Linked DNA regions of Homo sapiens. The protein of the gene in region 4 purifies or fractionates together with the protein of the main gene of each other region. This does not show direct contact. Each region holds a gene or a part of one and is shown on either strand. Other genes may lie near its edges. The genes, in order: PPP1R12A, MTFR2, MFSD8, GABBR1, MTFR1 and GNG2.

Evidence for each region.
Region 1: the proteins of GABBR1 (region 4) and PPP1R12A purify together in Homo sapiens (affinity purification with mass spectrometry; one large-scale study listed by BioGRID and IntAct). This does not show direct contact.
Region 2: the proteins of GABBR1 (region 4) and MTFR2 purify together in Homo sapiens (affinity purification with mass spectrometry; one large-scale study listed by BioGRID and IntAct). This does not show direct contact.
Region 3: the proteins of GABBR1 (region 4) and MFSD8 purify together in Homo sapiens (affinity purification with mass spectrometry; one large-scale study listed by BioGRID and IntAct). This does not show direct contact.
Region 5: the proteins of GABBR1 (region 4) and MTFR1 purify together in Homo sapiens (affinity purification with mass spectrometry; one large-scale study listed by BioGRID and IntAct). This does not show direct contact.
Region 6: the proteins of GABBR1 (region 4) and GNG2 purify together in Homo sapiens (affinity purification with a luminescence readout, with the first as the bait; one study listed by BioGRID). This does not show direct contact.

What each region holds. Positions count from the first base shown.
Region 1 is NC_000012.12:79,791,316-79,796,491, reverse strand, and holds part of PPP1R12A (protein phosphatase 1 regulatory subunit 12A), read left to right. Parts: intron 1-732; coding exon 733-854; intron 855-2,563; coding exon 2,564-2,629; intron 2,630-5,176. UniProt on the Homo sapiens protein: Key regulator of protein phosphatase 1C (PPP1C). Mediates binding to myosin. As part of the PPP1C complex, involved in dephosphorylation of PLK1. Capable of inhibiting HIF1AN-dependent suppression of HIF1A activity.
Region 2 is NC_000006.12:136,232,627-136,237,802, reverse strand, and holds part of MTFR2 (mitochondrial fission regulator 2), read left to right. Parts: intron 1-4,303; coding exon 4,304-4,478; intron 4,479-5,176. UniProt on the Homo sapiens protein: May play a role in mitochondrial aerobic respiration essentially in the testis. Can also promote mitochondrial fission.
Region 3 is NC_000004.12:127,923,021-127,928,196, reverse strand, and holds part of MFSD8 (major facilitator superfamily domain-containing protein 8), read left to right. Parts: intron 1-5,176. UniProt on the Homo sapiens protein: Outward-rectifying chloride channel involved in endolysosomal chloride homeostasis, membrane fusion and function. Conducts chloride currents up to hundreds of picoamperes.
Region 4 is NC_000006.12:29,612,024-29,617,199, forward strand, and holds part of GABBR1 (gamma-aminobutyric acid type B receptor subunit 1 isoform a precursor), read right to left. Parts: intron 1,463-5,176; coding exon 1,220-1,462; intron 592-1,219; coding exon 528-591; intron 1-527.
Region 5 is NC_000008.11:65,647,734-65,651,233, forward strand, and holds part of MTFR1 (mitochondrial fission regulator 1 isoform 1 precursor), read left to right. Parts: intron 1-1,492; exon of another isoform or gene 1,493-1,806; intron 1,807-3,500. UniProt on the Homo sapiens protein: May play a role in mitochondrial aerobic respiration. May also regulate mitochondrial organization and fission.
Region 6 is NC_000014.9:51,960,807-51,965,982, forward strand, and holds part of GNG2 (guanine nucleotide-binding protein G(I)/G(S)/G(O) subunit gamma-2 precursor), read left to right. Parts: intron 1-5,176. UniProt on the Homo sapiens protein: Guanine nucleotide-binding proteins (G proteins) are involved as a modulator or transducer in various transmembrane signaling systems.

The DNA.
Region 1 (5,176 bases), on a different chromosome or scaffold from region 4:
TTACTAGTGTAGTACTTCTCAGATGCTTTAAGCTATTTCTTGCCTACTGTGTAGATCATATCATTTAAATGTTTTTTTGTGAAATTGTTGTAAACTAAAATTACTAACTACATGTAATGCTCTCACTAAAACACATTTTTATGCTTATTTCTTAAAAAATACATTTCTTTCTCAACTATATATTGGCATATTGATACTCATTACCATTTCCTATTATTTTATATAAACTTTCTATTTAAATTCTGAGTAATTCCTACTTTAAATCAGATATAAGTACTAAATATAGGCATTTCATATTTTAAAGCCTAAATCTTACAGTATTAGTCATGATAATATCAGTAGTAATGTAGAATAAACAGCAGAAAATAAAGTTTTTTCCCAATTTCCAGCTATATATTTTCTCATGTTGATCATTGAGATGTTTCAGTTCTTTAAACTTCTATGTGTGAGGCCTGCATTGTGTTTGTAAAAATGTTGAACCAACATTTAAAATTAGAGATACTCACTTCAAACTTCAGATTTTTGCCATTTCTTGAAAAGTTGGCTGACCTGGCAACACTGGATCTGAATTCTCACATACCAACAATTGGCTGGAGCTAAGTAGTAGCAGCTGCCTACCTTCCATCCCCCTAGATAGTCCCCTGGCCCATTTTACCCATTGTTTTTACAATTACCTTGCAAAATATTGTCAAGATATATTGCTATATTGTGGTTCATTGCAATCCTTAACAGAGGGAGAAAAAAGAGAAGAGGAGAAAGAAGGAGAAGATAAATCACAACCTAAATCAATCAGAGAACGACGACGACCAAGAGAGAAAAGAAGATCTACAGGAGTTTCATTTTGGACACAAGATGTGAGAACCTATTAAAATACATTATTTGATAGTATTCTTGATAGTATTCTTAATGTGTCCAAAAATACATACTAATAATTTCTTATATGCCTTAGATTTCATATTCCTTAAATCATCACTGTGTTTTCTGAGTTGTTAAATAAGAAAAATTATTTTTAAGGATAGTTAACTACTTAGATTGTTGGTACTACTTAAAAGGAGTGGTTCTGACCTAATTATGGAATAGAAATAATAATGTCTGAAGCTCAGAGTGCATGTATTGATTATTTTATAATAGGTAAACTGCTTCTTGTAAAAACATCTTTTAAGAATTTCTAAGGAGTCTATTTAATTTCATTTTCATAAATATCATTATAAGATCTACATTACAGATTACTTCCATCTCAAAGCATGCTAAATAGACACAGTGCTTTGCTTATCAAATTACAACAGTCTTGTAAAAATTAGTGTTTTCCTGGTCCTTGATTGTAGGCCTGACATTGCTATTCATTGATTTTGTTTCCATTTTCTAAAAAATAAACCTTTTATTGAAGTATGGCATGTTTAGAAACATAATTCATACATGTATAGCTTAATGGATTAGCACAATAGGAGCATATCTATGTAATCACCACTCAGAATGATGAATAAAAACAGCAGTGTAGATTGCCCCCATGTTCTCCCTCTCAATCCCTATCATCCTCATTTTCAAAGTCAGCTAGTATCCTGATTTCTAACACCGTAGTTAACTATGCCTGTTTTTGAAGAGCATATGACTAGAACTATAAATTTTATAACTGTTATGTTTATAAGATATATCTATGCTATTTTATGTAGCAGTACATTTACTTCTATTGTTATAAAAATATTTTTTAAAGAAAATTTCTAACTATTCTTTCACTGAAAGAACATGGAATCATCTGTCTTCCTGTTAAACTGACCCATCTCTCACTATATGTTCCTCTTTATCTCTAATATTATATCTGACCTTAAATTCTGCTTTTTTGAAAAGCTTCCTTTTGATTATCTTTGTATAATATATCTTTTCTGTTATTTTCAATTTATTTGTGTTTTTTTTAATAAACAACATATTTAGGTCAACTTTTTTCTGAACTTTTTTTTAATTGCAGTGTTTCAGTCCATTTTAATTTTACTTAATTACTAATTACTTAATTACATGAAACAAATAACATTGTCATTTGCAGTTTAAAATATATAAAGAGCTAAGGCATATGAAAACAATAGCACAAAAATATGGGAAAGTATTAAATGGAGTTGAAGAGTTTTAGTATCTTCGCATTGTCCATGCTGTGGACAAAATATATATTCAACTTGATGAATCAAGAGTGCATATGTCTATTTAAAAAAGTTTAAAAAGAGAGGGAAAATCATACATAAATGACAAAGAAGGGAAGAACAGATGGGGAAATCGGAAAATAGTTTTCTATTTTTCTTTTGATTTTTAATATAGAAAAGTTAAACATATACTTTATAGAAGTAACATAATAGTATAATGAGCCCTACCCCCAGTATTCATTTTTTCAGCTAAATTCCCACTCCATCTCCCAACTCCCATATTATTTAGAAGAAAATCCTAGACATCTCATTCTATCTACAAATGTCTCAATGTATATTCTGAGAGAGAAGGACTCCCAAAAATAATTTTAAAAAATAAATTTTGAAATTATTACTAAAATTTCCTAAAATATAAATTGGCAATCTGTTTTTAGAGTGATGAAAATGAACAAGAACAACAATCAGACACAGAAGAGGGATCCAATAAGAAAGAAACTCAGGTAAATACCATTACTTTTTGTATTGAGAAGTATTCATATTTTTTAATAATTACTTTTAAATTGCGTTTTATTATGTTTATTCATGCAAAGCAGTTATTGCATACTCTACCTACATGCTGGGTATGCAATATCAGTGTTTGCCTGGGGATCAGGATTAAAAGGACTGGGAAGGGTCACAAAATAATGTTTTGGAGGTGATGAAAATGTTCTGAGTCTTGATCCTAGCAGTGGTTTTATGGATATACAGAACTGCCAAAACTCACCAAATTGTACACTCTAAGTGGATGTAATTTAATGTATGTCATTTAACCTTCGGAGTTAAAAGAAAAAGCAAAAAAAGAAATAGTACCCTTGGCCAAAGGAAAATATCTAAAGGATAATCAGAAGTAGTGGAAATCCAGAAGTAGTAGGCTCAGATTTTATTTCTGTAGATTTTATTTCAAAGTTATGTTCTGGAGAATATAGGCATCTTTTAACTTTCTTTTACATATATTTAGAAATTTAGAGTCTCCAACAGATTTTTATGTTGAGAATCTAAAAGACATTTTTTTCCTCTCAGTACTGATGAAGGACCTAAAGCAAGTTTGAATGACAAGGCTGCACAGCCAGCAAGGGTTGAAAGTTCCCCCGACCCCCTTCCTGATTGTTTGGCTGTGTAGAAAGCTAAAAAATATTCAAAATATTTCTGTTCATATGAGGATAGAGCTGAACAACACGAGTCTAAACCTGGCACTGTCTAGCATGAAATAGCATTCTGGTCATATTAATATTATTTTCTTCATTTTGAGTTGAAGTTCCTTAATAGAGCTATTACATTTCTTTTTAGTCAGCAAGGATCTACAGTAATGTGAACAAAAGTTGGTTACCTGTGCTAGGTGACGGTGAACATTATTTTAGGGCCAAGTTTGCCTATTTTGACCCCACAATTTTATTTTATCTTTAGGTGGCCAGACAATGAGGAGTGAATTGGTTCTGAGGTTAAATTATTTGCAGGCCTAAAGCTTTAACTGTTACCTAAATTTTTTGGTTATCAGTTATCAGAACTCCCCAATTTACCTATGTCCCTTCTTTATTAAACAAGAGGGGAGGAAATTAGTAAACCATCCCCATCTGACACCTCTCATTGCCTTATCACGCAGACTCCAGCCCCCACCAGGCTGGAGTGGAAGGGAGATTGTCTGGCTTTTAAAGTTGTAATTTTGAAGCATATTGATGTATACTGTATTTTAAGTTTTACTGTTAAAATCATATGAGATACGTTAAGATGAAGAGGAACATTGTTTCTAAGACGAAAAGTTTTTTTATTTTCAATTTAAGTAGTTTTTGTTTACTTTAGATTGTTTAGAGTTCTTTTAAAGTAATGAATAACATATAAATAAATATAACAAATATAAATAACAATATGAAACCTAAGTCAAACTGGATTAAACAAAGAAAATGTATTGTACTCCAGTTATATTCTGCAGTCCTTTGTGTCAGCTTCATCCTCAGGCTGATGTACCTCATAGGGATAGGATTATAGTTGGCTTAGGATAGACAGGGCCTATCACTGAACTGTTGCAGCCATTTTGCTACCAACATGGGCCATGTGTCATCTCACCTAAACCTAGTAACTGCTATACCATGAGAAAAAGGAAGAATGGATGTAGATAAATAAATAAGGTGCAATGTATGTGCATAGATCAATATTTTCTATATTCACATAGATATTATGTGTCCAGAAAAGGTTGGTTAGATAACAGTGGTTATCTAGAGAATGGAGGGATGAGGAATTACACAGGAACTTTGTATACCATTATGTGAACTTTACAATACCATAGTCAGAAAGATATTTCTGAATATCTTTCTATATATTTTAATCTTTTTTATCTTTAAAAAGATATTTTTACTTTGGAAAATTAATCTTAAAATTTGGGGAACAAGGGCGTTATGCTAAATGAAATAAGCAAGTTACAAAAAGACAAGAACTGTGTGATTCCACTTATTTTATTTGGGTATCATAGAAACAGAAAGTAGAACCTTTGTTGCCAGAGCTAGGAAGAGGAGGACAAAGGAAGTTGTTCATTGGATATAGAGTTTTATTTTTGCAAGATGAAAAAGTTCTAGCGATCTTTTGCACAACAATATGAATATAATTAAAAATACTGAACTATATACTCTAAAAAATGGTTTACATGGTAAATTTTATATTACGTGGTTTTTACCACAATTCTTAAAAGTTTTTAAATAATGCTAGGCCGGGCATGGTGGCTCACACCTATAAGCCCAACACTCTGGGAGGCTGAGGTGGGAGGACTGCTTGAGCCCAGGAGTTCAAGACCAACCTGGGCAACATAGGGAGACACTGTCTCCACAGTAAATTTAAGAAATTAGTCGGATGTGATGGTGCATGCCTGTAGTCCCAGCTAACTAGGAGGCTGAGGCAGAAGGATCAGTTGGGCCAGGAGGTCGAGGCTGTAGTGAGCTGTGATCATATCACTGCACTCCAGCCTGGGAAACAGAGCGACACCTCATCTCAAAAATAGTAATAATAATCAGTGATAACAC
Region 2 (5,176 bases), about 110 Mb from region 4:
GCTCTGTCGCCCGGGCTGGAGTGCAGTGGCATGATCTTGGCTCACTGCAGCTTCTGCCTCCTGGGTCTTGGTTCAAGCAATTCTTTTGCTGCAGCCTCCCGAGTAGCTGGGATTACAGGCACGTGCCACCATGCCCAGCTAATTTTTGTAGTTTTAGTAGAGACAGGGTTTCACCATGTTGGCCAGGCTGGTCATGAACTCCTGACCTTGTGATCTGCCGGCCTCGGCCTCCCAAAGTGCTGGGATTACAGGTGTGAGCCACCACACCTGGCCCACATTTTTAATTTTTAAGAGCTGTTTCTTTTTCTTCAAATGCTTCTTGTTAAAATCTTTTTGGTTTTGTTGGTCTTATCCCACTGACAGTATTAAAAGTGTAGGTTTGTTTTAAGTTTCCTCTGTTCTTGAATTACTGTATTTTTTGTGAGTTTCTTTTTTCCTTTTAGCTTTGATCTCTATCTTTAGTTTTGTAGCCTTGGGTAAGCATCTGGTGATTCTTATTTAAAATGAGGCAAGGAAAAGCTGATCGCATGTTCTTTGTGTGAGGTGGGCTTATCAACTTGGGAGCTTCACAGTTTAGTGATTAGGGAGAGGACCATTTTGTTGGCCACACCCCAGAGCTGTATGTCTTTTCTTTTGGGCTACAGGATTTTCCTTAGAAAGTTCTTCATTCTCCCTTGTGGTCAGGAGGGATGGGGATTACACAGCGGGTGCAAGTCAGGTCATTGGAGAGCTGAGTGGGGAAAGAGGAGCAAGAGAGAAGTGTCTTATTTAGCACACGCCCTGTGTTCAGCAGGGCGCCCACGCCCCATGCTCTCACTTTCATCAGCTTTCCAGCTTCCGGCATCTGGTTGCAATTCTTATCTCCTGTCTCCCCTTCTAATCTCTTTGTCCTTGTGGATATATAGATCTTTTTCATTTCTTTACTGTCATTTTAGTAGGATTTCACAAGGGATTTGCCATGCTTACTTGGAAATCCCTCAGTGAGGTTTTCGGTGAGAAAATAGATATATTTTCTGTATGATAGTCCTGGGACAGATAAGTCAGTTCTGTTTTTAATGAGGTTGTGAGTTTGATCCTTGCAACGATGCAGAAGGGCTCATTTTAAGTGAAATCCTTGTGAAGAGGAAAGAGAAGGGAAACCAGTAACCACAGGAAGAGCATGAGGCAGCTTGTTGAGAAGAATCTCATGGCTGTAGGTGCATGCTTGGTCCCAACTAGATCTTGTACTTGTGTTGTCGGGCTTAGTATCAAGTGGCAACTCTGTGACTGTTACCATCACTGGAAAAACAACTAAAAGGCCAGTAGCCTCTGCCTCCTGTCCCCCTATTCTCTCCTGAGTTGCCTCTACAGCTAACTTTGTTTTGTACGTTGCTGAGGAATCAGATGAGCTCTCTCACCTCTTTACACCTACAGATTCCCCGTGCAGATTCTCTGCCTTCCATCTTGCTGTTGGGAGCCAAGTGTCATCATTCATGGCCAGGCTCTTCCTTTGGTTACTGGTTTCCCTTCTCTTTCCTCTTCACAAGGATTTCACTTAAAATGAGCCCTTCTGCATCACTGAGTCTTCCTTCTATACTTCATCCTTCTCCTCACACCTGAGTACTTCCCACCTTCAAAACACATGTACTCTCAGCCGTTGTTCTGTTGTTCTGCTCCCCTTTCTGATATGAATTCTTGAAGTCGTCTATAATTTGTTTCTGTCTATCGCTGCTGCCTTCTACCCATGAAAACTCCATTGAAAACTGCTTCACCAGTGACTCCATGTGGCTAAATCCACTGGTCTCTTAGCATTGCTCGTCTTAGTTGACCTCTTGGCAGCATTTGATACAGCCTATGGTCCCCACCTCCTTGGAGCACTTTCTTTTTTTTTTTGAGACGGAGTCTCGCTCTGTTGCCAGGCTGGAGTGCAGTGGCGTGATCTCGGCTCACTGCAACCTCTGCCTCCTGGATTCAAGTGATTCTCCTGCCTCGGCCTCCCGAGTAGCTGGGACTACAGGCATGTGCCACCATGCTCAGCTAATTTTTGTATTTTTAGTAGAGATAGGGTTTCACCGTATTGGCCAGGATGGTCTCGATCTCTTGACCGCATGATCCGACCACCTTGGCCTCCCAAAGTGCTGGGATTACAGGCATGAGCCACTGCGCCTAGCCTGGAGCACTTTCTTTACTTGGTTTCTGGGAAAGCATACCCCCAGGTTTCCTCTGACCTCATCAGCTATTCCTTCTTATTCCTTAAACTCTTCCCCCTGGGCCTGGTCTTTAAATGTTGAAATACCTGGTTCAGACCTCAGCCCCCTCTCTTCTCTGTCCATGCTGTTTCCTTTGGTGAGCTCACCTAGTCCTATGACTCTAAATACCAGCTGTATGCTTATGACTCAAACGTTTATTTTTCTAGCCCTGACCTCTCCTCTTGAGCCCAGATGCACATACTGAAATGCCTACTTGACATCTTTATTTGCCTGTCTCACAGGTATCTCGTTTCACAGGTCCAAAACAGGACTTTTCCTTCCTACCTGTTCTTTTCCGCCACCTTGAAAACCTGTTCTTTCCCACGTCTTTTGCATATTAGCAAATGGCAACACGATCACCCGGTTGCTTAAGATCTAGGAATCAGGCCAGGTGCGGTGGCTCACACCAGTAAACACAGCACTTTGAGAGGCTGAGGTGGGCAGATCACTCGAGGTCAGGAGTTCGAGACCAGCCTGGCCAACATGGTGAAACCCAGTCTCTACTAAAAATACAAAAATTACCCTGACATGATGGCGCACACCTGTAATCCCAGCTACTAGGAGGCTGAGGCAGGAGAATTAATTGTTTGAGCCCGGGAGGCGGAGGTTGCAGTGAGCCACTATACTCCAGCCTTGGTGACAAAGCGAGACTCCGTCTCAAAAAAACAAAAACAAATATCTAGGAATCATCCTTCATCTTTATTTTCCATTCTATCTCCCACCGTTCCCATCAGCACATAGCTCAATTCTGTGGACCTCTTGACCTCCACTGCCAACTCCCCAGGCTAAGCCCATTCTTATCTAGCTTAGACTTCCGCAGCAGCCTCCTCAGTGATCTGTTTTCATTCTTGCCTCCTTATTTATTCTGCAGATAGTGACCAGAAGTCAGATCAGGCCATTCTCCTGCTTCAGACTCTTCTGTGGGTTTCCGTTGTGCTTGAATCAGTTCTAGAGCCCTTGCTGTGTCCGTAGGCCCCTCCAGGAGCCAGCCCTCACTTCTCTCGCTGAGCTCCTCTCCTATGCCCCATGTTTGCCCACTGCACTCCAGCTGCAGTTGCTTTCTTTTTTCCGTTTCTCACACATGCCAAGCTCCTTCCTGATGCAGCCCCAGATGTTTACACTAAAACTGACCCCTTGTCATTTTCTTAAAGAGGATGTTGCTTCCTTAAAGAGGCTTTTTTTCTGATCATATCTAAAGTGCTTCTGTCCCTAATCACTATTACATTTCCCTATTTTTTATTTTTTAATTTAGTTTTTTTTTTTTTTTTTTGAGACAGGGTGTTGCTCTGTCACCCAGGCTGGAGTGTAGTGGTGCCATGACTTGCTGCAGGCTTGACCTCCTTGGCTCAAGTGATCCTCCTGCCTTAACCTCCCAAGTAGTTGCCTGGCTAATTTTTAAATTTTTTCTAGAGATGGGGTCTCGCTATGTTACCCAAGCTGCTCTCGAACTCCTGGGCTCAGGCAGTCCTCCCACCTTGGCCTCCTAAAGTGCTGGGATTATAGGCATGAGCTACCGTGCCCAGCCTCTGTTTTGTTTTATTCACAGCTCTTATTACCAGCCAAATGATCTTACTTGTATATTGATGATAATCTTGCTGTAAGAATTGGGAGCAGAATACTCCCAAAGCATAAAATGGAGTCGGATGTGGTAGTGGGCATTCAATGAAGATTAAATGAATGAACAACCAAACAAATGAACAATTTGCGTAATTTTTTTTTTTTTGGCATGAACTCTCGTCCTTTTAAAAGTTCTTATTTATTTGAATTTTCCTACCCATTAGGAAATTAGAAAATTACCATAATAAAGATCTTCAGCATAGTGACATCTGACAAATCTCAGGTCATAACAAGGTTATGGCAGAGTCTCAAGTCACATGGGTTCTTGGTTTTCTGATTCTTCATTCATTGTGCCTTCCTTATTTCATTGCGAAAATTTCTTGAAGATTAGATTATTTTCAATCTCTTGAAGACTAATTAAATTGTAAGATATGCTTGTATTCCTGCCATGTTTGTCAACAAGGAGCTAAAATTACATCCAAGTTTTAATAAATTCAATTTTTTTTTTTAAAAAATAGGTCACCTGGCGGTAGACCCATTCATAAGAGGAAAAGACAGAATTCACATTGGGATCCAGTTTCTTTAATATCTCATGCACTTAAACAGAAATTTGCATTTCAAGAAGATGATTCTTTTGAGAAAGAGAATAGATCTTGGGAATCTTCCCCATTTTCTAGTCCAGAAACTTCAAGGGTAAGCTACACTAATGTAAAATTAATTTTTCAGTTTTTCTCAGATGTGTTGTTTATGTTACAGCTTTGTGTTCAAGTTCTCTTGAAGTAATTGTGCAGAATGGGCTATATAATTGTTTATTGATGCTGCTAATGTTTCTGGGGTTTTTTTGTTGTTAATTTTATATGCTCATTTTCACTTTTAGCCTATCATGAGCTCTTTTGAAATAAAATACTTAATTTGAAAAATATTTGTGCATATGTTTATAATGACTTATCTTAGGTGCCAATTTGATGTTGCCATCTGCAGTATGAACTGGGTGTCTGACAGTTTGAGAGGGCCAGGGAAGAATGGTGCAATAGATTCCCCCTAACCATATGGAATGTGAATACGCCAAGATTTTTCTCTGTCAAATATACAGACTTTGGATATTTTGTTGAATATAATGTTAACTCTGCATGTAAAAAAGCAAATGGGATTATAGTTATCTTTAGTGACAGCACTTACTGGATGCCTAGGATGACAAACACTGGATTTTAAGCATTTGAGCCTTAAGATTACTCCTTACTTGAAGTCTCTTTTCTTAAATTTAGAAGTAATTCTAATTTTGGGGTGGTTTTCACATGTCTTAATTTAGTTGAGGTAGTATTAACACATAAGAATAAGCCTTGAGAATGACAGGAGTGTGGAAGAGGAACAGCATCTAAAGTCAGCTAGAT
Region 3 (5,176 bases), on a different chromosome or scaffold from region 4:
GCGTGTAGTCCCAGCTACTCAGGAGGCTAAGGCAAGAGAATCGCTTCAACCTGGGAGGTGGAGGTTGCAGCAGTGAACCAAGATCACACCACTGCCCTCCAGCCTGGGTGACAGAGTGAGATTTCATCTCAAAATAAATAAATAAATACAAATAAATAAAAGAATAATTTTGGCCAGGTATGGTGACTCACATCTGCAACCCCAGCAATTTAGGAGGCTAAAATGGGAGGATCATTTCAGCCCAGGAGTTAGTTTGAGACCAGCCTGGGCAACATAGTGAGATCTTATCTCACTATGATATAATGAGATCCCTATTTCTTCACAGACACACACACAAACACAATTAGCTGGGTATGATGGAGCACGCCTGTAGTCCCAGCTACTTGGGAGGTTGAGGCGAGAGGATTGCTTGAACCCAGGAGTTTGAGGCTGCAGTGAGCTGTGATTGTACCACTACACTCCAGTCTGGGTGACAGAGCAAGACCCATCTCTTAAAAAAAGAATCATTTTGTAAAAGTACAACTGTAAGGAACATATTTTTAGGGAAATGCTTGTGTAAAATTAAGTTCAGTCATATAGTCTATGGTGGAACATTAGTTGATGAATTTAGACAGTTCTATTTAAGTATTCCTCAAATACAGATACTCTTTAACTTGCAATGGGGCTACATCCTGATAAACTGATCATCATAAGTTGAAAATAGCACTAAGTTGAAAATACAGGCTGGGTGCAGTGGCTCACGCCTGCAATCCCAGCACTTTGGGAGGCCAAGGCGGGCAGATCACCTGAGGTCAGAAGTTCGAGACCAGCCCGGCCAACGTGGTGAAACCCCGTCGTAACTAAATACACAAAAATTAGCTGGGTGTGGTGGCCAGTGCCTGTAATCACAGCTGCTCCACAGGTGGAGGCACAAGAATCGCTTGAACCCAGGAGGTGGAGGTTGCAATGAGCCATTGCATTCCAGCCTGGATGACAAGAGTGAAATTCCATCTCAAAAAAAGCGAAAAACAAAAAAAAAAAAACATTTAATACACCTAACCTACGGAGCATTGTAGCTTAGCTTAGCCTACTTTAAACACACTCCAACACTCACATTAGTTTTCAGTTTGGCTAAATCATCTAACACAAAGCGTATTTTATAATAAAGTGTTGGATATCTCATGTAATTTGCCAAATACAGTATACTGTAGATTATAGTACTGGATGTTTACCTTTGTGATCATGTGGCTGATTAGGAGCTGTGGCTCTCTGCTGCTGTCCAGCATCATGAAACAGTATCATACCACAGATCACTAGTCTGGAAAAATATCAAAATTCAAAATTTGAAGTGTGGTTTCTACTGAATGAGTATCACTTTCCTACTGTTGTAAAGCTGAACAGTTCTAAGTTGGACACTCATAAGTCAGAGACTGTATGTACTTTAATAAGGTTCTAAAATTAATCAACAAATGTTAAGTCAGTGTATCAGGTTCAGTGCTATGGGGGTACTATGAGAATTCTTGTCCTTATGGAGCCAAGTAGAGGGATCAAGATATAAGATAGACATATATTTATATTCAAAGTTAATAGGAAGTACATTACATCTTGCTACAGAAGTAGAGCAGTGCTGCTGATACACATTCTTATAGAATGTCCAATACCATCCCCTCAAAGCACGTGTATTCCAGTAGGGGGAAAGCCAATAAACACAAATGTGAAGTCAGATAGTGGTAAGTACTACAAAGAAGAATAGAAGAGAAAAGAATAAGGAGTGACAAGGGCAGGGCTGGGAAGTGGGGAAATGTTGTATTTGATACACTGCTCAAGGAAGGTATATATGAGGAAGTTACATTTAAGCTGAGACCTTAGTGAAGTCAGCAAAGAGCCATGCAATGGCCTGGATGGTCTCGATCTCCTGACCTCAGATGATCCGTCCTCCTCAGCCTCCCAAAGTACTGGGATTACAGGCGTGAGCCACCACACCCAGCCTTTATTATACTTTGAGTTCTGGAATATATGTGCAGGTTTGTTACATAGGTATAAATGTACTATGGTGGTTTGCTGCACCCATCAACCCATCATCTACATTAGGTATTTCTCCTAATGCTATCCCTCCTCTAGCCCCCCACCCCGCAATAGGCCCCTGTGTGTGATGTTCCCCTCCCTGTGTCCATGTATTCTCTTTGTTCAACTCCCACTTATGAGTGAGAACATGTGGCGTTTGTTTTTCTGTTCCTGTGTTTGCTGAGAATGATGGTTTCCAGCTTCATCCATGTTACTGTAAAAGACATGAACTCATCCTTTTTTATGGCTGCATAGTTTTCCATGGTGTATATGTGCTACATTTTCTTTATCCAGTCTGTCATTGATGGGCATTTGGGTTGGTTCCAAGTCTTTACTATTGTGAATAGTGCTGTAATAAACATACATGTGCATGTGTCTTCATAGTAGAATGATTTATAATCCTTTGGGTATATACCCAGTAATGGGATTGCTGGGTCAAATGGTATTTCTGGTTCTAGATCCTTGGGGAATTGCCACACTGTCTTCCACAATGGTTGAACTAATTTACACTCCCACCAACAGTGTAAAGGTGTTCCTATTTCTCCACATCCTCTCCAGCATCTGTTGTTCCCCGACTTTTTAATGATTGCCACTCTAACTGGTGTGAGATGGTATCTCATTGTGATTTTGATATGCATTTCTCTAATGACCAGTGATGATGAGCTTTTTTTCATATGTTTGTTGGTTGCATAAATGTCTTCTTTTGAGAAGCATCTGTTCATATCCTTTGCCCACTTTTTGATGGGGTTGTTTTTTTCTTGTAAATTTGTTTAAGTTCCTTGTAGATTCTGGATATTAGACCTTTATCAGATGGATAGATTGCAAAAATTTTCTCCCATTCTGTAGGTTGCTTGTTCACTCTGATGATAGTTTATTTTGCTGTGCAGAAGCTCTTTAGTTTAATTAGATCCCATTTATCAATTTTGGTTTTTGTTGCCATTGCTTTTGGTGTTTTAGACATGAAGTCCTTGCCCATGCCTATGTCCTGAATGGTAATGCCTAGGTTTTCTTCTAGGGTTTTTATGGTTTTAGGTCCTATGTTTAAGTCTTTGATCTTTCTTGAATTAATTTTTGTATAAGGTATAAAGAAGGGGCCCAGTCTCAGTTTTCTGCGTATGGCTAGCCAGTTTTCCCAACACCATTTATTAAATAGGGAATCCTTTCCCTATTGCTTGTTTTTGTCAGGTTTGTCAAAGATCAGATGGTTGTAGATGTGTGGTGTTATTTCTGAGGCCTCTATTCTGTTCCATTGGTCTATATATCTGTTTTGGTACAAGAATCATGCTGTTTTGGTTACTGTAGCCTTGTAGTGTAGTTTGAAGTCAGGTATTGTGATGTCTTCAGCTTTGTTCTTTTTGCTTAGGATTGTCTTGGCTATATGGGCTCTGTTTTGGTTCCGTATGAAATTTAAAGTAGTTTTTTTCTAATTCTGTGAAGAAAGTCAATGGTAGCTTGATGGGGATAGCATTGAATCCATAAGTTACTTTGGACAGTATGGCCATTTTCACAATATTGATTCTTACTGTCCATGAGCATGGAATGTTTTTCCATTTGTTTGTGTCCTCTCTTATGTCCTTTAGCAGTGGTTTGTAGTTCTCCTTGAAGAGGTCCTTCACATCCCTTGTAAGTTGTATTCCTAGATATTTTATTCTCTTTGCAGCAATTGTGAATGGCAGTTCACTCTTGATTTGGCTCTCTGTTTGTCTGTTATTGGTGTATAGGAATGCTTGTGATTTTTGCACATTGATTTTTTATCCTGAGACTTTGCTGAAGTTGCTTGTCGCTTAAGGAGATTTTGGGCACCACTGGTCCCACAGAAATACAAACTACCGTCAGAGAATACCACAGTATTCTCTAATACTATAAACACCTCTATGCAAATAAAATAGAAAATCTAGAAGACACGGATAAATTCCTGGACACATACACCCTCCCAAGACTAAACCAGGAAGAAGTCGAATCCCTGAATTGACCAATAATAAGTTCTGAGATTGAGGCAGTAATTAATAGCCTACCAACCAAAAAAAGCCCAGGACCAGATAGATTCACAGCCGAATTCTACTGGAGGTACAAAGTTTCCATTCCTTCTGAAACTCCATTCCTTCTGTAACTATGCCAAACCGTAGAAGAAGAGGGACTCCTCCCTAACTCATTTTATGAGGCCAGAATCATCCTGATACCAAAACCTGGCAGAGACACAACAAAAAAAATTTAAGGCCAATATCCCTGATGAACATCGATGCGAAAATCCTCAATAAAATACTGGCAAACCCAGGCCAGGTGCGGTGGCTCACGCCTGTAATCTCAGCACTTTGGGAGGCTGAAGTGGGTGGATCACGAGGTCAGAGGTCGAGACCATCCTGGCCAACACAGTGAAACCCCATCTCTACTAAAAATACAAAAAAAATTAGCCAGGCGTGGTGGCAGGCACCTGTAGTCCCAGCTACTCAGGAGACTGAGGCAGGAGAATGGCATGAACCCGGGAGGCGGAGTTTGCAGTGAGCCAAGTTCACGCCACTGCATACCAGCCTGGGCGACAGAGCAAGACTCTGTCTCAAATAATAATAATAATAATAATAATAATAATAATAATAATAATAAATAAAAATAAAAAATAAAATACTGGAAAACTGAATTCAGCAGCACATCAAAAAGCTTATCCACCACGATCAAATCTGCTTCATCCCTGAGATGCAAGGCTGGTTCAACATACACAAATCAATAAATGTAATCCATCTCATAAACAGAACCAATGACAAAAACCACATGATTATCTCAATATATGCAGAAAAGGCCTTTGATAAAATTCAACACTCCTTCATGCTAACAACACTCAATAAACTGATATTGATGGAACGTATCTCAAAATAATAAGCGCTATTTATGACAAACCCACAGCCAGTATCATACTGAATGGGCAAAAACTGGAAGCATTCCCTTTGAAAACCGGCACAAGACAAGGATACCCTCTCTCACCTCTCCTGTTCAACATAGTGTTGGAAGTTCTGGCCAGGGCAATCAGGCAAGAGAAAGAAATAAAGGGTATTCAATTAGGAAATGAGAAAGTCAAATTGCCTCTGTTTGCAGATGACATGATTGCTGTATTTCTTAAAAACTAGTACTTGCATCTAGA
Region 4 (5,176 bases):
CAGAGTCTTACTCTATCACCCAGGCTGGAGTGCAGTGGCGTGATCTCAGCTCACTGCAACCTCTGCCTCCTGGGTTCAAGTGATTCTCCTGCCTCAGCCTCCCAAGTAGCTGGGACTACAGGCACCTGCCACCACACCCAGCTAATTTTTTTTTTTTTTTTTGTATTTTTGGTAGAGACAGGTTTCACCATGTTGGTCTGGCTGGTCTCAAACTCCTGACCATGATCATGATCTGCCTGCCTTGGCCTCCCAAAAGTGCTGGGATTACAGGGGTGAGCCACCACACCCAGCCTGCACACCTCTTTTCAAGAGCAAAACCAGTGCAACTCAAAGACATCAATCTTCTTGTAGTTAAGCTTATTATTATTATTATTTACAAGCTTGATGAACAGAGTTAAAAGAGAAGGGCAGAAGTTGGGAGGTGCCAGGGCAATCTTGTGATGTCTCTGGCATTCTTCCCCAGGGGGCATCCCAGCCCAGCCCCAGCCTAGCCCCCATGTCCGGTCCCCTCCTGCCCCTGTACTAACCCTGAAGCTGCTCGATAAGCGTCCATGCCATCCGAGAGCCGCTGGCATCAAACACCACATGGCCCTGAGGGAAGGAACATGTGGAGCAAGGCAAAGGAGACAAAAGCAAGAGTGAAAGAGAACATCAGGGACTCTTTAAATCCTTCTGTTTTTGATGTAATTGAGCCTCTGAATGAATGCTATTTATGGCATTTGCCTGCATATAGGACATACCCCAGATGCCCATACCCTAGATTTTAGAAACATTATTCTTTGGAGAAGGAGCTTCACTTATGAGATTTGAATGGGAAAAAATCCCCAGACAGAACACCAGCAGGCTTCTGGTTGTGTGGCCTAAGCAAGTCAGCAAATCTCTCTGGAAACTAATCTTTTCATTTTAAAAGGAATAAGAAGATGACCTTTCAGACTGTTTTGTCTTTCAAAATCCTATAGTTCTCATCTGACTCATGAATACTTGGTCTAGTTTGAAAAGAAATGAGGGGAGGGGTTTAAAAAAATGGAATACATCATTTTTTTTCCTCTAGTCTTTGATGGGTTCTTCTAATTTGAAGGTCCCTACTTCTCTGGTCGGAGACTGATTCTGCAAAGAAGTAACTGAGAAAAACAGAGAATGCATGTTTGTAGAAGGTGCCTCTTGGGAGTCTCTCTCAAGATTGGGAAGACAGGGGAGTATGAAGGAAGTTTTAACTCACAGAGACACCCTCAAAGGACGAAGAGTTCATTGCCCGGTAGATTTGGTCGGTAATGGTCTGGTTGTTGTAGTTGAAGTCCTCCAGGCGCACACCAGAACGGCCGCCTCCTCCAGATGTCTTGTTCAGGGCCAGTGCCAAGGCCCAGATGGCATCATAGGCCAGCGGTGCCTCCTGGAAGCCTCCTGTCTCCTCAGGGTGTCTTTTCAGTCGCTTGGTTAGTTTCTCCACAAATTCCTGGGATGTCTTGGGAGGAAAAAATCATGAGGAAAGAACTGAAATGTGTGTGGGTGTGGGGGAAGGGGTGCAATCCAATTCTGACTCAATCACTTCTACTTGAATGGATGGTTTGTGTTACTGTTGTCAGATTGGACACATGTACATTCAAAATCTTTAACTATACCCATGTGTCTGCCTTAGATCGGAAGCTACTAGACTAGAGTAGGTATTAGCTGTGTCTGATGGTGTTAGTGTGTACAGTTGCTAGCTCAGAACTGCAAACAGAGAATTTTGACAAACACTCTGGATAATTAGTGGCAAAGGATGGAAGGTAGAGCAGAGTAAAGGAGGAGACATGGATATTCCAATGAAGAGCTGTGACACTGATGTTCTCTGATCCTTCTGACTTTCTTCATAGAGTTAACCCAGGATCTAACAGCTCCTACAATTCCAAAAGATTCTAGAAAAGGTGATAGCAGTCTTCTCACTCTGCTTGCCAGCCAGGAGGATATTTCTTCAGCATGCTAACTTCTTGCCATTCTTGTGTGCTTTTGGTTCACTGCCTCTTAGAAGGCTTTCAGAAGAATGAAAACTACAGAAATACCCTTCACATTTTTGAAGTCCATTATCAATCCTACCCACACCCCTCCCAACACTCAACCTTCTTTTTCCATGAAAGCTAAAAAGAATGATAGTTCCTTTAACTCTCTCATGAACTGGGTCAAGAGACCTGACTTCATATACCTTGCAGTAACCTTGTTTGGCTAAATAACTGTAAGTAAATTACTTAACCTCTTGGAACTGCATTCTACATACTGGAGAAAATCACATCATTCCTTCCTTACCTCACAGAAACCATACAAGGAAAAGCTTAGCAACTACTTCTTGGGAAACCACAAGTAATACACAGGGGACCATACAAATAATTGTTTGGGTTTGGAATGTTTTAACACAAACGGTAATGAAAGAATAAATAGATGAATGAAGAATAAATAAATAACTTTGTTCCTCATGCCTTGCTCACTTTTCTCTCCAACTTTCTAGAGAGATAGAGGAGTGAGATACGCAAAGGGCACAGGCAAGGTACAGCAGTTGCTACTACACTGGGCTTTGAAGGAGCCTGGGCTTTGAAGATGCAATGGGCCTAGGTTCTACCCTTGAGGACAAGACCAAATCCCATGCCCTCTCTTAATCATCAGCATCTAGCACTGTGCCCAACCATAATGAAGTAACAATAAATGTCCATTGGATTAGGCCAGTGAAAATACTCTGTAAAGTATTTAATAGTAGATACGTCTCATTATACATTTGTCCAAACCCATAGAATATATAACACCAAGGGTGAACTCTAATGTAAACTATGGACTTTGGGTGATTATGATGTATCAATGTAGGTTCATCAGTTGTAACAAATGTACCACTCTGGCGGAGGATGTCGATAATGTAGAAGGCTATGCATGTGGGAAGCATATGGGAAGTTTCTGTACCTTCATCTCAATTCTGCTGGGAAACTAAAACTGCTCAAAAAAAAAAAAAAAAAAAAAAGGCCAGGCACAGTGGCTCACACCTTTAATCCTAGCACTTTGGGAGGCCAAGGTAAGCAGACTGCCTGAGCTCAGGAGTTAAAGACCAGCTGGGCAACATGGTGAAACCCCATCTCTACTAAAATACAAAAAATTAGCTGGGCATGGTGGTGTGCACTTGCAGTCCCAACTACTCAGGAGGCTGAGGGCTGAGGTGAGAAAATCACTTCAACCCAGGAGGTGGAGGTTACAGTGAGCTGAGATGACGCCACTACACTCCAGCCTGGGCGACAGAGCAAGACTCCGTCTCAAAAAAAAAAAAAAAAGGCATTATAAAAAACAAGTCAGGCTGGGCACAGTGGCTCACACTTGTAATCCCAGCTCTTTGGGAGGCCAAGGAGGGTGGATCACCTGAGGTCAGGAATTCCAGACAGCCTGGCCAACCTGGTGAAACCCGTCTCTACTAAAAATACAAAAATTAGCTGGGTGTGTTGGTGGGCTCCCGTAATCCCAGCTACTTGGGAAGCTGAGGTAGAAGAATCGCTTGAACTCAAGAGGCAGAGGTTGCAGTGAGCAGAGATCACGCCACTGCACTTCAGCCTGGGCGATGGAGTGAGACTCTGCCTTTAAAAAAAAAAAAAAAAAAAGGCAGCCAGGCACAGGGGGCTCACGCCTGTAATCCCAACATTTTCATTTTCAGAGGCCAACGCAGGAGGATTCCTTGAGCCCAGGAGTTTGAGACAAGACTGGGCAAAACAGAGAGGACCCAACTCTACAAAATTTTTTTAAAAATTAGCCAGACTTGGCCTGGGCACGGAGGCTCACATCTGTAATCTCAGGACTTTGGGAGGTCAAGGCGGGCAGATCATGAGGTCAGGAGTTCAAGACCAGCCTGGCCAACATGGTGAAACCCTGTCTCTATGAAAAATACAAAAATTAGCTGGGCACGGTGGCTCACGCCTGTAATCCCAGCACTTTGGGAGGCTGAGGCGGGTGGATCACCTGAGGTCCGGAGTTCGAGACCAGCCTGAGCAACATGGAGAAACCCTGTCTCTACTAAAAATACAAAATTAGCCGGGTGTGGTGGCGCATGCCTGTAATCCCAGCTACTCCGGAGGCTGAGGCAGGAGAATGGCTTGAACCTGGGAGGCGGAGGTTGCTGTGAGCCAAGATCGCGCCATTGCACTCAAGCCTGGGCAATAAGAATGAAACTCTGTCTCAAAAAAAAAAATACAAAAATTAGCTGGGTGTGATGGTGGGCTCCCGTAATCCCAGCTACTCAGGAGGCTGAGGCAGGAGAATCGGAGAATCGCTTGAACCCAGGAGGCGGAGGTTGCAGTGAGCCAAGATCATGCCATTGCACTCCAGCCTGGGCAACAGAGCAAGACTCCATCTCAGAAAAAAAAAAAATTAGCCGGACTTGGCTTGGAGCAGTGGCTCACGCCTGTAATCCCAGCACTTCAGGAGGCTGAGGAGGGTGAATCATGAGGTTAGGTGTTCGAGACCAACCTGACCAACATGGTGAAACCCCATGTCCACTAAAAATACAAAAACTTATCTGGGCATGGTGGCACGCACCTGTAATCCCAGCTATTCAGAAGGCTGAGGCAGGAGAATCACTGGAACCCAGGAGGCAGAGGTTGCAGTGAGCCGAGATCACACCATTGTGCTCCAGCCTAGGCAACAGAGCAAGACTCTATCTCGAGAAAAAAAAAAAAAGTTAGCCAGACTTGGTGGCATATGTCTGTGATCCCAGCTTACTTGGGAGGGGCTGAGGTGGGTGGATGACTTGAGCCCAGGAGGTCAAGGCTGCAGCGATTGTACCACTGCACTCCTGCCTGGGCAGCAGAGGGATACTCTACCTCAAAAAAAAAAAAAAAAAAAGGCTGGGCGCGGTGGCTCACGCCTGTAATCCCAGCATTTTGGGAGGCCGAGGCGGGCGGATCACGAGGTCAGGAGATCGAGACCATCCTGGCTAACACGGTGAAACCCCGTCTCTACTAAAAAAAAAAAAAAAAAAAAAAAAGTCTGTTGGATAGATAAATGGATGAATTCATATTCTAATCATTTTACCTGCTATGAAATCTCAAACAAGTTATTAAACCTCACTAGTTGGTTATTCAGCTTTAAAATGAGAATAATACTATCTAAAATAGTATGAAATGAAATTAGAACATGTATAAAAATGCTGGGTATGAAGTAAGTTACATTTTCTCTA
Region 5 (3,500 bases), on a different chromosome or scaffold from region 4:
CCAGCTACTGAACTATTCTTTTATATATTTATTAGATACTATTGATAGAAATTACACAATTTAGATAAGCAACAAAAAAAAAAATGACACTATAATCCTACCCTTTAAAGATAACCACTTGATGGGGAAAAGGTGATAACAGTTTTAGTTAACATTTATTTGATTACTGTTGGACATTTTTCACATTTTATTTTCTGTTTGTATTTCTACTTGTAAAATGCCTACTGACGTACTATGCCTATTTTTCCATTGGGCTTTTGATCATTTGTTTGTTTGTTTGTTTGTTTGTTTGTTTTGAGATGGAGTCTCGCTCTGTCACCCAGACTGGAGTGCAGTGGTGCGATCTTGGCTCACTGCAAGCTCTGCCTCCCGGGTTCACGCCATTCCATTCTCCTGCCTCAGCCTCCTGAGTAGCTGGGACTACAGGCGCCCGCCACTAAGCCCGGCTAATTTTTTCTATTTTTTAGTAGAGACGGGGTTTCACTGTGTTAGCCAGTATGGTCTCGATCTCCTGACCTCGTGATTCGCCCACCTCGGCCTCCCAAAGTGCTGGGATTACAGGCGTGAGTCACCATGCCTGGCCCATTTGTTTCTTTATTTGCAAGCACTTTATATTCATTAGGGATATAAACCATTTGTTACATTAAGTTGCAAATAGGTTTCTCAATTACATGGCTCTTCTCAAAATCTTCAGAGTGGCTAGTAAAATGAAAAATATGTCAGCTGGGAGAGCACTCAGGGCTGCTGTTTTAGGGACCAGAACATTCCACCTCTGAAACAATTCCTTCATTTATGATACTGAAGTTATTGTCAACCAGTCAATCTGCAAGTCATTTTTACCAAATAAATTGTTTTGTGTAAATAGTTGATATCATTAAAAAATTTTTTTTCTGCTCCGACTCCACCGGGAGATATCATTTAACGTATAATTTGTACAACTGGAGTTGACTGGTGTGAGTTGGTTGTGGTTAAAATGTAAACAGTCAGACAAGTTAAACAGGAAAGTTAAGTTTCCATGATTGAAAAAACATACATTGTAATGTACATATAAATATATATATAAAGCAGTATAACTAAGATCTTTTTAAACATTTAAGATTTTTTTTTAGGGACAGAGTCTTTCTTTGTTGCCAGGTTGGAGTGCAGTGATGCTATCATAGCTCTAAGATATTTTATTAATTTTTTTCACCTCCCTCCCTTGGTTACTTTTTGAAATGGCCGATTTGATATATAGTCGGCCTTCTGGATTCATAGGTTCTGTATCCGCAGATAGAAAATATTTGAAAAAACAATGATAAAATAACAATATGACAATAAGAAACAATACAAATAAAACAATACAGTAGACAACTGTTTCCATTATATTAGGTATTACAAGTAATCTACAGATGACTTCAAGTATATGGGAGGATGTGTATAGGTTATATGGAAATACTGTATCATTTTATATTTCTTTTTTTTTTTGAGATGGAGTTTTGCTCTTGTTTCCCAGGCTGGAGTGCAATGGCACACACGATCTCGGCTCACTGCAACCTCCACCTCCCAGGTTCAAGTGATTCTCCAGCTTCAGCCTCCCGAGTAGCTGGGATTACAGGACCCCGCCACCACGACCTGCTAATTTTTTGTATTTTTAGGAGAGACAGCGTTTCACCATGTTGGCCAGGCTGTCTTGAACTCCTGACCTCAGGTGATCCACCGCCTCAGCCTCCCAAAGTGCTGGGATTACAGGTGTGAGCCACCGCGCCTGGCCCATTTTATCTTTATTTTTATTTTTGTGGGTACATAATAGGTATATGTATTTATGGGGTACGTGAGATATTTTAATACAGGCATATAATGTGTAATAATCACATCAGGGTAAATGGTAAATGGGGTATCCACCTCAAGTATTTATCCTTTCTTTGTGTTACAAACAATCCAATTATACTTTTAGTTATTTTTTAATGTACAATAAATTATTGTTGGCTATAGTCATCCTGTGATGCTATCAAATTCTAGGTCTTATTCATTCTAACTGTATTTTTGTATGCATTAACCATCCCTACTCCATCTCCCCCCACCCCCCCACACTGTCCTTTGCAGCACCTGATAACCATCCTTTTGGGTTTTTTTGTTTTGTTTTTGAGATGGAGTCTCGCTCTGTCACCAAGGCTGCAGTGCAGTGGCGTGATCTCGGCTCACTGCCACCTCTGCCTCCTGGGTTCAAGCGATTCTCCTGCCTCAGCCTCCCAAGTAGCTGGGGTTACAGGCGCCCACCACCACGCCCGGCTGATTTTTGTATTTTTAGTAGAGATGGGGTTTCACTACGTTGGCCAGACTGGTCTCGAACTCCCGACCTCAGGTGATCTGCCTACCTCAGCCTCTCAAACTGCTGGGATTACAGCTGTGAGCCACCATGCCCAGCCTAATTTTTGTATTTTTAGTAGAGACAGGGCTATGCCATGTTGGCCAGACTGCTGGTAACCATCCTTATACTCTTTTTTTTTTTTTTTTTTTTTGAGACAGAGTTTTACTCTGCAACCTCCGCCTCCCAGGTTCAAGCAATTCTCTGCCTCAGCCTCCCGAGTAGCTGGGATTACAGGCGCCCACCATCATGCCCAGCTAATTTTTTGTATTTTTAGTAGAGACGGGGTTTCACCATTTTGGCCCAGGCTGATGTTGAACTCCTGACCTTGTGATCCACCTTCCTTGGCCTCCCAAAGTGCTGGGATTACAGGTGTGAGCCACCGCGCCTAGCCAACCATCCTTATACTCTTATCTGCATGAGTTAAGTTGTTTTAATTTTTAGGTCCCGTAATAAGTGAGAATATGTGAAGTTTGTCTTTTTCTGCCTGGCTTATTTCGCTTAACATAATATCCTCCAGTTCCATTCATGTTATTTTCAAATGACAGGATCCCATTCTTTTTAATGGCTGAATAGTACTCCGCTATGTATATGTATCACATTTTCTTTATCCATTTGTCTGTTGATAGACATTTATTTAGTTGCTTCCAAATCCTGGCTGTTGTGAATAGCTCTGCAACAAACATGGCACGGCAGATATTGCTTCAATATACTGATTTCCTTTCTTTTGGGTCTATACCTACCAGTGAGATTGACGAGTCATATGGTAGCTCTATTTCTAGTTTTTTGAGGAACCTCCAAACCGTTCTCTATAGTGGTTGAGCAAATTTACAGTCCCACCAACAGGATATGAGGATCCCTTTTCTCCACATCCTTGCCAGCATTCATTCTTGGCTGTCTTTTGAATATAAGCCATTTTAACTGGGTGAGATGGTATGTCATTGTAGTTTTGATTTGCATTTCTCTGATGATTGGAGCACTTTTTTAATATACCCGTTTGCCATTTGTAAGTCTTCTTTTGAGAAATGTCCATTCAGATCTTTTGCCCATTTTTGAATTAGATTATTCGATTTCTTTCCTATTGAATTGTTTGAGCTACTTATGTATTCTGGTTGTTAATCCCTTGTCAGGTGAATAGTTTGCAAATTTTTTTTCC
Region 6 (5,176 bases), on a different chromosome or scaffold from region 4:
TTGTGTGCTGGGAAGCCTTTCTACTCTGGCCCTATGTGATCTCCAGGATTGTTTTACTTGCTCCTTCCTGATATTCTTTGCATAGCCTCAAGTGGTTTTCTCCTATGCATGTGCCAATCAGTATTCAGCCAAAGGCTCAAGATGAATCCTCCAGAGGCCTTAAGAGCTTTCTCTCCCCTAGTGTAATTCTTTCTTCTCTGCTATTCTCTCCTCAACTCAGGGAGATTGCTGAACTCTGTCTGGGTACTCCCTCCCTGTGCAGTGGCAGGCAGTAAGCTGGGGCAACTGTAGAATTTATCTTATCTCCCTTCTCTCAGGGATCACTCCTCTGTGCTGCCTATTGTCTAAAAGTTAAAAATTATTTCTTCATATATTCTGCCCAGTTTTTAATTTAAGGCAGGAGAGTTTAGTTGGCCCTTATTACTCCATCATAGCCAAAATTGGAAGTATAGAATGCTGTATAAACTCTACAGGGACAAGCATCTTTGTATATTTTGTTCCCTGATTATTGCAAGTATCCAGACTACACCTGGCATATTTGATGCTCAGTAAATATTCGTTGCATGAAATATCTGTCGAAGAAGATTATGTTTGAGAACTCCTTCAGCAATTACTATGAGTGTTGAATATGTGTCAGGCACTGATTATACGGTAGTAAATAACACAGGTGTGGTTCCTGCCTTCGTGGAGCCCAGAGCCTAAAGGGAAAGGCAAATATTAAATGGCAAATAAACAAACGATGTCCGTAATTATAAACTGTGAAAGCAATTTATAATTTCTGTGAAAGAGAAGAATGTGAGAAAGTACTCTGAGAGAAAATAATCAGGAAAGTCACTGTGGATGAGGCGATCAGTGAAGGTTCTGCAAGGAGGTGGTATTTCTGCTGACTTCTGAAGGAAGATGATAAGCCAACCCATTGAGGAGATGAAGAGAACAATATTCTAGGATACTGAATATGTGACACTCTGAGGCAAAAAAGAACTTGGAGCTTTCAAAAAGTAAAGGAGATATTTGAGAGGGAAGAATGCTACAACATGAAATTGGAGAGAGGGGGAGGCCCAAAACATGCAATACCCACAGGCTGTTTTACAAAGTTTTGGTTTTCTACAAATTACAATGAGAAGTTATTGAAGGTTTTAAATAGGAGAATGATAGGAATCCACTTGTATTTTAAAAATATCTTTCTAGCTACAGTATGGAGAATACTACTCCTGCATAGTTATGAACACAGGAAATCATTTAAAACTGAGATAATTAAACATTTTTGTGCTCTTGACTCATTTGTCTGTCTGCTCAAGCCTATGGTCTCCTTCTTAGAATCATGTTTTTAAATTACAAAAGAAACTAATTATATTGACATGAGGGTCATTAGAATATTTTTGTAAAACATTTTAAATAATATTATTTAAAATATCAATTTTTAAAAATATATGTGATGTAGTTATACATAGGTACTCCTTTGTTAACTGATTATGTAAGATCTAATAGGTCTACAATCATAAGGTGGATGAACAGAAATGCAGTGTTGAGGTGTCTGCAATGAATATAATGTGATTGAAAGTATCTGGTATCTATCAGTGGCCAAGTCACATGTACTGCTAGGGCTACTGCAGTGTGTTGTCTATATTTATAATGAGAGGAAATGTTAAATTTCCATTTGAGGTTAGTGAAAAATAAAGATGTAAATTTTTTGTATTATTTGAAGTTCACATACCACCCCCCGAATTCGATCTGTGGAACCCTGGGGTAATCCAAATTAATTGCCTTTATTTACAAAGTTATTTTAGTAATCACAAAGAGAGAAGACTGCAGTATGAACTGGGGTAGCTGCAATAGATATAACAGGAAGGGAGCCAAATTTGAGATATCTTTGGAGGAAGAATCAACAGGACAGAAAAGGGAGAGATTTTCTGGAGTTATTGGGGAAATCTTCATGGAAGAAGTAGGCATACGAATGTAGAAGAAGCTGTGTGCAAAATGTTAGCAGGGATTGTCAGAAAGCAGAAAGATCTGCTAGGCACACGATTGCTGTGACTCATTATAAGGCACAGGACAAGGAAGACAGCCACAGGTTAGAAAGGAGGAATGTTCATGAAGATTAAGTCAGGGACATTGAGACTCACAACTCAGTAGCTCAGGAGCTGTGGGACCTGGGGCAAACACTTAATGAAGCCTCCACTTCACATATTTAAGATGAGAATGATAATAGCTTGTGACCCATAATGTTGTTGTAAGGATTAAATAAGATACCGTATGTAAAGTGGTTAGCACAGTTCTGACACATAGCAAGGGCTGATAAATATTAGCAATTATTCTAATTACTGCTGGGATTCTGACACTGTTGGAGCATTGCCCACAGGAGATTGCAGTCTTGTTGAGGAAACAAGATAAAACACATAATATATTTTAAGAAGGAAACCATTCAGAATCAAATGTTCAAATATAAAGATATGAGCAGCTCTAAGTTATTAAATTTTCCTAGTATAGTACTTCCTGTATCATAAAAAGATTTTGAATATTCATGCTACATAGTTGTATGTGAGTGTTGCAAACGGGTAGGGATGAACGGTGCTGCTTCTCCTCGTAACAAATGAGTTTTAGATATCACTGATTTACTGTCTCCACTGCCTAACAGCTAAGCTCCTGTTTGGTGTAACAATGACTATCGCTCAAACAAGAAGAAAGAATGAAGAAAAAAAGTGATCTCAATTCAGTCTGAAAGTCTGTCCTTTGTTTTCATGTGGGAGAGCTAAGACATAAACAGGCTGTTTCCTTTCATTTTGTCATAGAAGCATTTCATAAAGAATTTCAATTTCAACCTTTGGAACAAAGCCCACATTTGAGTAGTTTATATGCAGATGGCTGTGGCTTAATGGCAACACATTCGAGTTCAAGTTCTTTTTCTGCTGTGTGCTTTGCTCTATGATATTGAACAACTTATATAATCTGCTGAGCCTCAATTTTTCATCTATAAAAAGAGGATAATAATTCTTACCTCAGGATTACTGTGAAGATCAAAAGAGGAAATTTAACTCAATGTCTGGAACAAAATAAGGATAAAATAAAAATATTTTTGTAAGTACTGTAATGTCTATTAAAAAGTGAGACTGATTTTTACATACATATCATGTATTGGGTTGACTAGTGTCCCCTAAAATTTATGCCCACCTGGAATCTTAGAATGTGGCCTTACTTGGAAATAGGGTATTTGTAGATGTAATCAAATTAAGAGGAATCATACTGGATTAGGGTAACTCTAACTGGTGAGATGGGAAATTTGGTCACACAGAGAGGAGAATGCCACATAAAGACACAGACACTCAGGAGAGAATTCCATGTGAAAATAGAGACAGAGATTGGAGTGATATGTCTATAAGCCAAGGGATACCAAAGATTGCCAGCAACCACCAGGCACTAGGAGAGAAGCATGGAACAGATTCTCGCTCAGACCCTCCAGAAGGGACCAACCAAGCTGATGCCTTGATTTCAAACTGCTAGTCTCTAACAGAATAAATTTCTGTTGTTTTAAGTTACCCAGTTTGTGAGGACTTGTTCAAGACAGCCAGAGGAAACAAATACACAAACCAATACCTGTACCTCTTTGTGTCAATTAGGGTTGGCTAGATGTTGTGGTAGTAACAGAAGGTGCCCTACCCTTCATTCTTAGGGGTTTGCAATAGCACAGTCACACTTCTCACTCCTACCATATGTCAATCATAAATCAGCTGCCACTCCACACCATGTCACCTTCATCAGGGATGCTGGCAGATGGAGCAGCCTCTGTCCAGAATGTTGCTTCTATCTGTTCTGTGGCAAAGGGAACAGAGACCCCAAAAATTCAACGGTTTATGGGATGAGAAGAGGAAACTGATTTCTCTACCCAACCAGTAAATCATAAAGTTGAAGTAGCCTTAAGTAAAAAAGGCCAGGCACAGTGACTTACACCTGTAATCCCAGGACTCCGGAAGGTGAGGCGGGAGGATGGCTTGAGGTCAGGCGTTCAAGACCAGCATGGGCAAAATAGCAAGAACATTTTTGAAAAACCAGCTAGGCATGGTGGCATGCACCTGTAGTCCCAGCTACTCAGGAGGCTGAGGCAGGAGTGACAAAGCTTTAATCAACTCAGCCCTGGGACAAGAAACAAATCAAGGATATTGCCACTATGCCATTTGTTAAAACCTCTGCATCAATTAAGAGGGTTCCTCATAAATTATTTCAGTCGGACGAAGTGGTATAGAGGAAGGGACATGGCAAACTGTGCATTGGCTCCTAAAGTTTCTGCCCATAATTGATCCACATAAATTCTGCTCACATCTCTCTGGCCAGAGCAAGCTTATGTCACTGGGCAAGTCTGATGTCATCATGTGGGCATGTATGTCCCACTTGTAGGAAGGGGCAGTGACTATCTTTAGTAATAATATAATTCACCCAAATCTTAAATTAGATTATCCTTTCAGTAGTTGCTTTGATATCCTTTCAGTAGTTACTTGACAGGCGTTCGTAGTAGTACAGTGGTGTTGCTTTCATGTGGAAATGTGTTATTTTATGTAAAAATTTGACCCCAAATGGCATTCCCCAGGTTGATCATTTACCTAGTCCCCAGATGTAGCTATAGATGACTTTTAGTTTATTTCCTGAAACTAAATCCACGCTCTAATGTAGTAAAAATTTCCTCTGGTGAAGATGGTTGAAGGAAGGTACTACAGGGAACTCATAACAAGCAGCTACAAATATGTTGTAAGAAATGACAGCATCGCCAGAATCAGTGACGACCTCCCAGTGAAATATCACTAAAGGGCACAATGCTTGGTTAAAGTCACAGGTATAAATTTTAATATATATGAAGTATAAAAATATGTTCTATATAGTGTGTGTATACATAGATATATCTCCTGCTGCATCTGCTTAAAAAGGGAAATTGACATGGTTTTAGGCATCCCTAGCACAATTCCTGAAGCAGAGAGTCACGACTACAAAATGATAATAATGGCTAGCCTGTGTGGAAAGCTTGCTATGTGCCAGACACTAAATGATTTACAGGGATTTTTTCATTTAACCCTTGTTACCAGGGCTGGGACCAGGGTGGGGCAATGAGATATCGGAGCACAAAAGTGAAGGAGGGCCGGGCACAGTGGCTCACGTCTGTAATCCCAGCACTTTCGGAAGCCGAGACAGG